Homo sapiens: one gene and its partners. The protein of the gene in region 1 purifies or fractionates together with the protein of each later gene. This does not show direct contact. Each region holds a gene or a part of one and is shown on either strand. Other genes may lie near its edges.

Region 1 (3,646 bases):
TGAGACTCTCATTTACAGGGCAGCAGAGGGCAGAGAAGCCCCCTACCAGTAACACACATATGGCCCTGCAACAGCCCAGGGCTGCTCACCCATGTTGTACTTCTGCTGCACTTCCCGGACCACTTGGGTGTTGGCCGACCTCCGGAAGATGCCCTCGGTGGTGAGAGCTGGGAAACAGTAGGGCCTGGTGAGCCTCCGAGCGCTGGGCACCGGCTGGATTCCCTGCCCCTTCTCTGTCTTGGGGTTCTAGGCAGGGCTGGGTGGGGACGTTGAGGCTTGCAGGACCTCCCTCTGCCCTGCCCAGCAGCTTCCCCAGCTTCCTGAAGGGAGCCGGGAGACCTGGCTGGTGAGGAGGCAGGCCCGGCACTCACCGTGGGCCTGTAAGTAGGCAACAGTCTCCCTGAGTACAATGGGAATGGGCTCCTGCTCTGGATTCTTCTCCTGGAGGCTGCGGGAAAAAGGCTGGTGAGCCGGGCCTGCAGCCCTTCCCGCCCCGCCGTGGCCCAGCCACCTTTCATACTTACTGCTGCAGCGAGACTCCAAACTGCTGGTTGGGCAGGGGGGGCCGTGGGGGCATGGGCTTGGGGGCTGTCGCGGGGCTCTTCTGTGTGGATTTCAGGAAGTCGTCATATCTGTAGGAGTAGAGGGAGGTGGGTCAGGTCCTGCCTGGCTCTGGAGTCACTCTGCCAATTCAATCAAGCATTGACCACGCGGGGTCAGGAGGATCATCTCATGCGATCTCTGTAACAACTCCGCTTTCCACAGCAGAAAGCAAAGACCTGGGAGAGGTCGGGACACGGGCTTGCTCTGCCTAAGCCCCACGCGGTCTCTGAATCAGGACACACGTCCTCATTACCCTGGCTTCACGAGCCCCCAGCCGCCGCACCCGCCTCACTTGAGCACTTGGCGAGGGATCCCCAGCTGCTCCAGCTTCACGTGCTCGCTCAGCTCGCTCAGGTAATTCACATAGAAGATCTTCTGCCCGAACTTGAAGCTGTTGGTGGAAGAAAGGGCCTGGGTTGTGGGGGCCCGCTTCCGGTGGCCTCCACTCTCCCCTCAACACCCACCCAGTTCAGACGGAAGCCCAGCCGCACCTGGTGGTCCCCAGGCTGCCCAGCCTCCCAGCTTCAGAGTTCCAGGCAAGCCGGGACCACCAGCCCTGCCCGTGGCCACTCACCTGATGAGGGGCTTGAAGAGGATGAGCAGAGTTTTGATGAACATGGTTGGATGCACGATGTACAAGGCCTTGATGTTTTTCTTGTACCTGCAGAGACAGAATGGACAACTCAGGAGCAGGCGTGGTGGGACAGGTGCCACGCTAGGGTCCCAGTGCATACTTTTTTTTTTTGAGACAGAGTCTCCTTCACCCAGGCTGGAGTGTGATCTCAGCTCATTGCAGCCTCCACCTCCCGGATTCAAGCTATTCTCCTGCCTCAGCCTCCTGAGTAACTAGGATTACAGGCACCCACCACCACACCTAGCTAATTTTTGTATTTTTAGCGGAGACAGGGTTTCACCATGTTGGCCAGGCTGGTCTGGAACTCCTGACCTCAAGTGATCCATCCGCCTCAGCTTCCCAAAGTGCTGGGATTACAGGTGTGAGCCACCACACCCTGCCTCAGTGCATATTTTCTGATTTGAACATGCATGGCCAGCATGCGAGGTAAGGGCCATCACTGTCTCATTTTACAGATTAGAAAACAGGAGGCTCAAAGAGGTTAAGTAAAACAAGAGGTCAGAGTGCAAATAAGCTGAGAAACTGGGCCTTACTTAAGCCCAGGGTGATCTGACTGCAGATTCTTTACATTGACGTAGACGGCAGCCCCCGCCACCCCCTGCCTTGGAATAAGCTCCTGCCCAAGTGGAGGGCAGCCCGGAAGCTGGCAGAGCCGCTGCCTCTGGATCTGACTGTGCAGGCCCCATGCCCCAACCCACTTGCGGTCAAACTCCCGGTAGGCATCACGGAGCCAGCTGAGGGAGGGCTTGTTGTCGCTGGTCAGGCCGTGGTGCAGATACAGAAGTGTGTAGTCACTCTCCACGTACTGGTCCAGGGTGTGCTTCAGGTACCTTCCAGGGAAAAGCCCTGCTCAGGCCTGCCCTGTGCACAGGGGCGGCCCCACGAAGACAGAAAGCAGCCCCAAGAGTCTCCCACCACGTCACAGCCCCTTCCCCACAGGCCCTCCCCTAGCACAGTCTGTTCTGGCTCATAATCAGTCACCAGGTTGCTGTGGAGGAGGCCTAGGGTAGAGGCTGGGCAGAGGAATGAGAATAGTAATAACAGCTCTCAGCCGGGCGCAGTGGCTCATGCCTGTAATCCCAACACTTTGGGAGGCCAAGGCGGGTGGATCACCTGAGGTCAGGAGTTCAAGACCAGCCTGGCCAACATGGTGAAACCCCATCTCTACTAAAAATGCAAAAATTAGCCGAGCATGGTGGTGCAGGCCTGTAATCCCAGCTACTCAGGAGGCTGAGGCAGGAGAATCGCTTGAACCCAGGAGGCGGAGGTTTCAGTGAGCAGAGATTGTGGCACTGTACTCCAGCCTGGGCAACAAGAGTGAAACTCTGTCTCAATAATAGTAATAATAATAACAGTTCTCACTCTTGAGCAGGAACTAGATGTCAGGAGACCAGGACCCTAACCCGGGCCTGCCTAGGCCTGCAGTGAAAAGGGGAATGACGTTTCCCCTGAATCAGGGATTTCTCTGAATCAATAATAATGATGACAGTCACCATTTCTCAATATTAAGTTTTTAGTGTCTGCCAAGCACTTCACATACATTAGCTCATACATTGCTTATAACTGAGGCTGATGTAATCCCCATCCTACAAATGAAGGCAATGACCAGAGAGGTCAAGTGCTGATCCAAGGTCACACAGCTTGTGGTAGATCCTGGAAGTGAAGTGTCTAACACCAAAGCCTGCTTTTTTTTTTTTTTTTTTTTTGAGACAGGGTCTTACTGTCACCCAGGCTGGGGCACCGTAGCGCAATCACAGCTCACCGCAGCCTTGACCTCCCAGGCTTAAGCTATCCTCCTGCCTCAGCCTCCTGAGTAGTAGGAACCGCAGGTGTGAGCCACCACACCCGGCTCTTTTTTCTACTTTTTATTTTGTAGAGACAGGTCTCACTATGTTGCCCAGGCTGGTCTTGAGTTCCTGGCCTCAAGCAATCCTCCCACCTCAGCCTCCCAAAGTGCTGGGAGATTACAGGCATGAGTCACTGCACCTGGCCGAAAGCCTGCATTCTTGACCATGGGACAGCTTTGCCTTCTACACATGAACTCCAGTGCCGGCGGTAAAACACTGTGCCCATGAGAGGGGATGGGGTGGCCAGAGAGTCACCTGCTCCAGTCACTGGGCCTTTAGTGGACCAAAGAGCCCCAATTCCTCTGGTTCCCTATTATGCTCATGACACGCTATCTACCAGCTCAGCACAAACATATACACACCTGGTGTTGAGCACACTGAGAGTTATGGATGGAATGAACAAGAACTGGGGAAAGGGAAGGGAGTGTGTGTAAAGCCCTCTCCTTTTTTTTTTTTTTGAGATGGAGTTTTGCTCTTGTTGCCCAGGCTGGAGTGCAGTGGCATGATCTCGGCTCACCAAAACCTCTGCCTCCCAGATTCAAGTGATTCTCCTGACTCAGCC
Region 2 (3,646 bases), on another chromosome or scaffold:
AGACAGGCTGGTAAGTTGAGACACGAGATTCTTGGATTTTCCTGAGACCTTTCTCCTTCATCTCTCCAGACCCAAAGAGAATAACCTGGAAAGTCAGCTAGTGAGGGTCTGCAAGACCCAACTGAGAGAGCTTAAGAACCAGAGAATTTGGAGGCAGGTGAAGGCTGGAGTTGTATTTGGGGGAGTTTTGTTTGGAGTCAGTCTTTTTTTTTTTTTTTTTTTTGAGACAGGGTCTCACTCTCACCCAGGCTGGAGTGCAGTGGTGTGATCTTGGCTCACTGCAGTCTCCACCTCCTGGGCTCAAGCAATCTTCCCACCTCAGCCTCCTGAGTAGCTGGAACTATAGGCATGTGCCACCACGCTTGGCTAATTTTGCATTTTTTGTAGATGGGGTTTTGCCATGTTCGGGCACAAGTGATCCACCTGCCTCAGCCTCCCAAAGTGTTGGGATTACAGGCGTGAACCACCTTGTCTAGCCTGGAGTCACTGTTAATTTCTTCTGTTGGTCCATGGCAAGGTTTACAGATGACTTTGTTTGGAAAGCCTGAATCTGTTTTTAAAAGCAGGGATGGGGAGTGGGAAATCACAGTAGTTACTACTTGAGTCTATTTAGTGGACTATAAAAATTACTATAGCTTCAGTTTAACCTAATCAGAGCTTGCCATGAATTCGAGCCTGCTTGCCTCTCTTCAGGAAATTAATCTGGGTCATTTGACTGTCCCAGTTAAGCAGGTACATGTTTTAACAGTTTTAAAGGCAATTGCTGCCTGTATTTGGTTTTTCAGAGTATATACCCGGTTATCCTTGCCAATACATTTAAACCTCTTAGCCTACAGATCTTTTCTTTTTACCAGCCTCAGTGTTTTGTGTTTTTCATTTTTTTGTGGAGACAGGGTCTCTATTTCCCAGGCTGGTCTCGAACTCCTGGCCTCAAGCAGTCTGTCTGCCTCAGCCTCTGAAAGCATTGGGATTAAAGGCGTGAGCCACCATGCCCAGGCCAGCCTTGATGTTTATTAATCCTTTTCAGTGACAGTCTCACTCTCCCTCTTTCTTTCTCTAGTGATTCCTTCCTCTGACGCCTGCTCTTACAATAGGCGTCCCTGCGAGAAGAGTCACCCAGTGGCATCAAGAGCTCTGGGCAGGATCCGTCCACTTCCAGAGTGGCCTGAAGAGTGGAACACATTTCTTTTTAGTTAAATGAGTTTCTTCGGTAATGTCCAGAATATAATAGCCTAAGCATGATGGAATCCCCCGTACCCCACCCTATACCCCCTTCCAAACAGAAACAACTGTTGTTTGGTTTTTTGGGGTTTTTTTTGTTTTTTTGTTTATTTTTTTGACACGGAATTTCACTCTGTTGCCCAGGCTGGAGTGCAGTGACACAATCTCAGCTCACCACAACCTCTGCCCCGCCGGGTTCAAGCAATTCTCCTGCCTCAGCCCCCTGAGTAGCTGCGATTAACAGGCACCCACCACCCTGCCCAGCTAACTTTTGTATTTCTTAGTAGAGATGGAGTTGCACCATGTTGCCCAGGCTGGTCTTGAACTCCTGACCTCAGGTGATCTGCCTGCCTCGGCCTCCCAAAGTGCTGGGATTATAGGCATGAGCCACTGCGCCTGGCCACAACTGGGATTTTTAAGAAATTGCCTAGGAGAGAGTTAGTTGAACTTAAGGTGGTGTCTAATTAGAGCAAAGTGCCTTCCATTTTAACTTCAATGAACTTGCCACGTTGGTCTGATGATAACCCAAGAGTAAGGAGTCTTGGATTCTGATCCCAGCTCAGCTTCTAGAGACTTGGTGGTTTTCAAATTGTTCTTGAGGGACTCCTTCAACTGAAGGGCTCCCTAGTTGCCAAGAGTGGTTGGTTCTGAGTCGAGGTGGCTTTGATTTGTCAGCTTTGGTCAGAGAATTCAGGCAGGGGGCAGGAAGTCCGTGTTCTGTAGTTGTTTTGTTATTTTACCCTTTTTATACCTTCCATTCAGGAGAAGTTTATTAGATGAATCCGTGTCCAGAAATAGAGAATTAGTTGCCTTCATCCTTTATATTAATTTCCCTTGAAGTATAAACAGCCAAAGAAGAAAAGTACTTGTGGGAGAAAGGGGGTTCAGATCCTCAAATTTGAAAATAGTTTTCAACTTCAGGAACGTGAAAGGTGACTGTTAACCAAAGTCTGAGTCTCAGGAGCTACTTCATGTGGTATGCTTTTACCTGATGTTATGTTTTAGATATGGCTCATTCATTCGGCACATGTGCTGGGTGCCTACTGTTTGCTGGACACTGCGGAGCCTGGTGGATGCTGGGGGAAGCAGATGGGTCTGGTCCTGGCCTCCAGGAGCTTACTAGTTAAATGTGGGAGTCATTGCTAATCATTTACGTAAGTCATTGTTTAATTTTAGTTGTGGTAAGTTTACAAAGAAAAGAAATGGGCTGCTAGGAGAGCTCACTCTCTACCCTTTTCTCTTCCTTTGTAGACTGTGTGAGGAGCTCTCATTGCGGGTGGGAGACTGATTGCCTGCAGTAATGGGGAGAGGATATGCCTGGTTCCCTCCTCTCACTCCTTGCTTGGACTTTTGTCTTTACAACTTGAACTAAGTATTCTCCATTTGACCTTTTTCCTGCCTCATTATTCTTCCCAGACATTCTCTAGCTTCTACTTTCTGCCTCTTCAGGTGTGCATCAGGGATCTGGTATCAAGGAATTTAGAACTTGAAAAGAAGTGTTATGGTCCAGTTCCCTCACTTTCAGATATGGAAGAAGGGAACACATCCACGGTCACACAGCAGGTTAGAGGCAGAACCAGGACCAAGCCTAGGTCTCTGCATCTCAGCCCAGGGCTTCTTGTTACATTCCTGCAGGAAGGGCTTTCTAAGTCAGCAGGGGCCCAGCGTCAGGGACCTACTTACCCTTGCAGAGACACTGAGAGGACAAAAACTAAGCCCCAAGGGGGCCAACAGCCCCAGACTTCACATGGCCTAGGGTTGTTTTCTATATATCTTGGCAGATTTATCAAGAGTACCTTTTTCCGGGAGCTGAGGAAAGAAAAAAAATATGCCCCATTCCTATCATTAGGGGATTCATATTCTAGAGGAACATAGAAGTCTCACATGTATGGAGAGAGCATAGAGCAGCTTGCTAGGGGCTCAGGTACACACCCTGTGTGAGGGAGAGCTCTGGAGCAGGAGGAGATGCGGAGTCGTCTCCTGGATGCAGAGCAAGGATTTTCCTAGAGAGGTGGAGTCCAGATAGTCCAAGGAGCAGAGGAGTGGAGGCCAGGCTTTGCTAGGGCTAGGAGAAGAGAGAGACCCCCTCCAGGCTTGCGGGGAATCCTGAAAAAATGGTCCACACAGACAAAGAGGGTTAGGAGGTTGTGAGGCAGGGGCTGATTTTGTAAGACCTTGAACTCTGCTCTGAAGGACCAGATCATGGAGCTAGTGGGGTGCCGTGCCTCACTTTCTCAAGGGAGTGGTTTCATGAAAGCTGGGCTTTTGGGAGAGAAGTCTGGTGGCATTTTAGGAGCCCTAGGGGTCAGGAGGCCTAACCAGGGACTTACTGCAGTGACTCAGTTATGGAATGAGGAGGCCCTGGTCACAGGGAGTAGCAGTGGGGTATTTTGAGCTTCTATAGTGCTTGTTTGCAAAACATGAT
Region 3 (3,646 bases), on another chromosome or scaffold:
CAGTTGGCTGGGTCTCTCTTTTGACACCCCTTTGGGTCAGTGAAAGGCAGAGGGACACATTCTGGTATCCACTCTTCATTCATGTTTATTGAGCATCTGGGCTGCCCCAGGTATCCTGGAAGCCGCCTGGGAAGGCGCAGTCTCCAGCCAGACTGACCGAGCAGCTGCTGTCCCCCACTGCAGGTCGCTGCGGAGGAGCTTTGCTGTCTGCTAGGCCAGGTCTTCCAGGTTGTTTACACGGAGTCCACCATCGACTTTCTGGACAGAGCGATATTTGATGGGGCCTCTACCCCGACCCACCACCTGTCCCTGCACAGCGGTATGTTGAGTGAGAGTGGGCAGCGGGTGGGAGCAGGGACAGGAGGGGCTACTGCAGTGGCCCCCAGCTCCCCATGAGTTACTCCTGGAATAGCGCAGTTACTGCCGTGACATGGTGGCCTTTTGTTTCCAGACTTTGCTGTTCACATTAGCCCATAGGGTTTCATGAAGGCAGAAGTGTCACCTGTCCTTGAGAGAGTTGCACCAGGTCAGCGCTATGGCTTCCTGGAATAAATTTGGGGTCTGTGAACACTTTTTTGGAACCACTTGTGGCTAAAGTCACTTCACTTAACTCGGAACAAAGAGCTTGGAGAAGGCTCCTAGCACTGGGGCCTGTGATGGAATTGGGGAGGCTGAGAGTGGGTCTGGGGAGCCTCCTTTTCAGTATGCCCAGACTATGGCTGCTCTTAATGTGAAACTCCTTCCAGGACCATGGCCAGACCCATGGGAAGCTGCTCAGGCTGCCCTGGGAGGCCAGCTGGCAGTGGTGGAGCAGTGGCAGATGGGGAAGAATGGAAGGTACCCCAGAGCTGTCTCTTCCTGCATGGCCCACACAGCATTTTCAGGAGTCTGTTAGTCCATTGAAAACACTTCATCAGCAAGCTCACTTGAGTTAAGTCTTCAAAAACATCATCTGTTTTTCAGATGTATTACTTATTGAGGATTAATGGGTTATATAAATTGAGGTGCATAAAAAGCTGTTGGAGGCTGGGTGTGGTGGCTCATGCCTGTAATCCCAGCACTTTGGGAGGCTGAGGCGGGCGGATCACCTGAGGTCGGGAGTTCAAGACCAGCCTGACCAACATGGAGAAACCCTGTCTCTACTAAAAAATACCAAGAAAAAAAAAAAGGCTGTTGGAAACAGTGCGGCTTGTTGAGTACAATTTCTTCTTTTTACGGAGATAAGTCCCAGCCCTCTGCCCTTTCCCCAGTAACTCGCACATCTCAGTGAAGAGAGTAAATGGTGGAGAAGCCTGTGCTGGTGTGAGGGCTGCTCCTCAGTGCCTCCTTCTTCCCTTTCTTGCTGCTGGTGCCAGAGCCCTTTGTGGGCACTACACGCCTTGTGTTGGCCCAGCAGCTGCAGAGAGACAGCTGCTGAGCTCTCAGGCATCCTCTCTATCTCATTTAGTCCTCGGTGGCCCAGCGAGATAGGTGCAATCTTCATCCCCATTTTAGAGATGGGGAAGTGGAGGCTTAGAAGTCAACAGCTTATCCAGAGGAATGTACCATATGAGTAGCAGATGATTTATCGAGCTGTAATTAAACATTCAGTTTTAGTGCGACTGGTTTGGCCCTTGTGCTTTAAAATTCCCAAAGGGCCTTTTTTTCTTTAATAATTTTTTTTTTACTGAGAAGTACACAAGTCATACATGTACAGTTGAATGAATTTTCATAAAGTAAACACATCATGTAACACCACTACTGGGGGTTGCTGAAGTGGGCTTCTTCCCCTGCCAGCCTTTCCCAAGACCTCCCCGTGGGATCCACACACAGATGTGCACACGTTACGCACATGCATGCATTCTCTGCTTATTTCTGCCTTGGAGTTTTGCTTGCTGTGTTCTCTCTACTACAGCTATGCCAAAACATAGCAGCATAAACAGCAGAAATATATTCTCTTATAATTCTATACGTTAAGAGTCCATTGTGGGTCCCACTGGGCTAAAGTTGAGGTGTCCACAGGGCTGGTTCCTTCTGGAGGCTCCAGAGAAGAAGCCATTTCCTTGTCTTTCCAGCTCCTAAAGGCGGCTGCATGCCTTGGCTCATGGCCCTTCCTCTGTCTTCACAGCCAGCCACGTGACCTCTTCCACAGTCACATCTTCCTTTGACTGTCAGCTTCCTCTGCATTTCAGGACTCTTGCAATCACATTGAGCCCACCCAAATTCTCCAGGGTCATCTCCCTATTTCAAGGTCAGCTGATAAGCATCCTTTACTCCCCTTTGAAATTGGTAACATATTCACCAATTCCAGGGATTAGGATGTGGACGTCTTTGGGGGGTCATTATTCTGCCCTCCATACTTACCTTGTTCCTAGTGCCAGAAATGTCCCTTTTATCTCTCAGCCTCTCCCTCTGCTTCATTTAAAATCTTACCCTCTCTGCAACACTCACCTGCCTCGCTCACAAAGCTTTCACTCACTGTCTGTGCTGGTGTGAAATGTGCCTTCCTCAGGTTTGAAATAGCAAATTACAGTCTGTGTCACACGGACCTAATGTCATTTGTTGAATGTAGCTGCTCAGTGCCAGACCCTTTGCTGGTCTGAGGGTCTTGGGAATCCTGTGGCTTCACTGGGTTCAGATGGGGAGTCAGACTGCCCGGCTCTGACTGTGGTTTCTGCTGTGTGACCTGGGCCAAGTTGTGTAACTCTCTGACTTACTTCCTAATCTACAAGTGAAGACAGGGGTGATATATGCCTGGGTTAAAGGAGACAAAGCCCCAGTAACCCTGCCTGGCACATGAGTGATACCTCAAAGACAGCTTTTGCTGGCTCTGGCCATGGGTGAATGTGTACTTCAGCCCAGCGTGCAGCAGGATTTGCATTTGCCAGGATCCCCAGGAGGGGTGTATGTGGGCTCAAGTCTGGGAAGCCCTGCCCTGAGGCACACAGCACATTCCAGAGTGCGGGCAGCTTGATGAAGGACAGCAGGGTCCCTGAAGACCAGGGCTGCCGCTGTCTCCTGTAAATACAGCAGTGGGCTGGACTCAAAATGCCTCCCCACTATGTCCCTGAAAGTCATCTTAGTTTTCTGCATCTTCCTTACAGATGACTCTTCTACAAAAGTGGACATTAAGGAGACCTACGAGGTGGAAGCCAGCACTTTGTGAGTGCACATGCCACCAAGCCCTGCGGTGGGACACGCACCAAATGCGTTGTCTGGTGTTGTCCAGGCTGCAGCCAGTCAGCTCCCCCATCTCAGCTCACCCTCGCTAAGCCATCCCCAGACCCACTGTACCCAGCTTAGTGAATGGCTGAGGCCTGGCTCGCCGCCCTCTCCTCGTAGACTTCTAGAGCCCTTGCTGTCCCTCTTGTCTCTCCCTGCCTACCTTCCCATGGCCTCCCAAGAGTGAGCTTGTAATAGGCATGTTGGATGGAGCTGTTCCCCTGCCCGAGCCTGCCGAGGCGCTGGCCTTCCAGCCCATCTCTGCCACCACCTGGGGCTCTGTAGTAGTTCACCCACTCGCGCTCTCCATTCCTGCCACCTCCCCAACCCTGGCTCCTTCCCCTGCCCAACAATGCTGCCCACTGCCTTGACCTGTGTACTCCCTCTCTTCACTCAGAGCCCAACTCAGAGCCATGCCCCCGGGGAGCCCCAGGACCAGGCCAAG

What was found.
Region 2: the proteins of ARHGAP1 (region 1) and RPRD1B fractionate together in Homo sapiens (co-fractionation; one large-scale study listed by BioGRID). This does not show direct contact.
Region 3: the proteins of ARHGAP1 (region 1) and CCM2 purify together in Homo sapiens (co-immunoprecipitation; one large-scale study listed by IntAct). This does not show direct contact.

Annotation. Positions count from the first base shown.
Region 1 is NC_000011.10:46,680,116-46,683,761, forward strand, and holds part of ARHGAP1 (rho GTPase-activating protein 1), read right to left. Parts: intron 2,068-3,646; coding exon 1,936-2,067; intron 1,265-1,935; coding exon 1,178-1,264; intron 995-1,177; coding exon 896-994; intron 633-895; coding exon 525-632; intron 449-524; coding exon 372-448; intron 168-371; coding exon 90-167; intron 1-89. UniProt on the Homo sapiens protein: GTPase activator for the Rho, Rac and Cdc42 proteins, converting them to the putatively inactive GDP-bound state. Cdc42 seems to be the preferred substrate.
Region 2 is NC_000020.11:38,085,637-38,089,282, forward strand, and holds part of RPRD1B (regulation of nuclear pre-mRNA domain-containing protein 1B), read left to right. Parts: exon of another isoform or gene 1-10; intron 11-1,060; exon of another isoform or gene 1,061-1,210; intron 1,211-2,226; exon of another isoform or gene 2,227-2,375; intron 2,376-2,472; exon of another isoform or gene 2,473-2,784; intron 2,785-3,646. UniProt on the Homo sapiens protein: Interacts with phosphorylated C-terminal heptapeptide repeat domain (CTD) of the largest RNA polymerase II subunit POLR2A, and participates in dephosphorylation of the CTD by RPAP2. Transcriptional regulator which enhances expression of CCND1.
Region 3 is NC_000007.14:45,069,643-45,073,288, forward strand, and holds part of CCM2 (cerebral cavernous malformations 2 protein), read left to right. Parts: intron 1-183; coding exon 184-319; intron 320-746; coding exon of another isoform or gene 747-895; exon of another isoform or gene 896-2,107; coding exon of another isoform or gene 2,108-2,230; intron 2,231-3,083; coding exon 3,084-3,141; intron 3,142-3,646. UniProt on the Homo sapiens protein: Component of the CCM signaling pathway which is a crucial regulator of heart and vessel formation and integrity. May act through the stabilization of endothelial cell junctions. May function as a scaffold protein for MAP2K3-MAP3K3 signaling.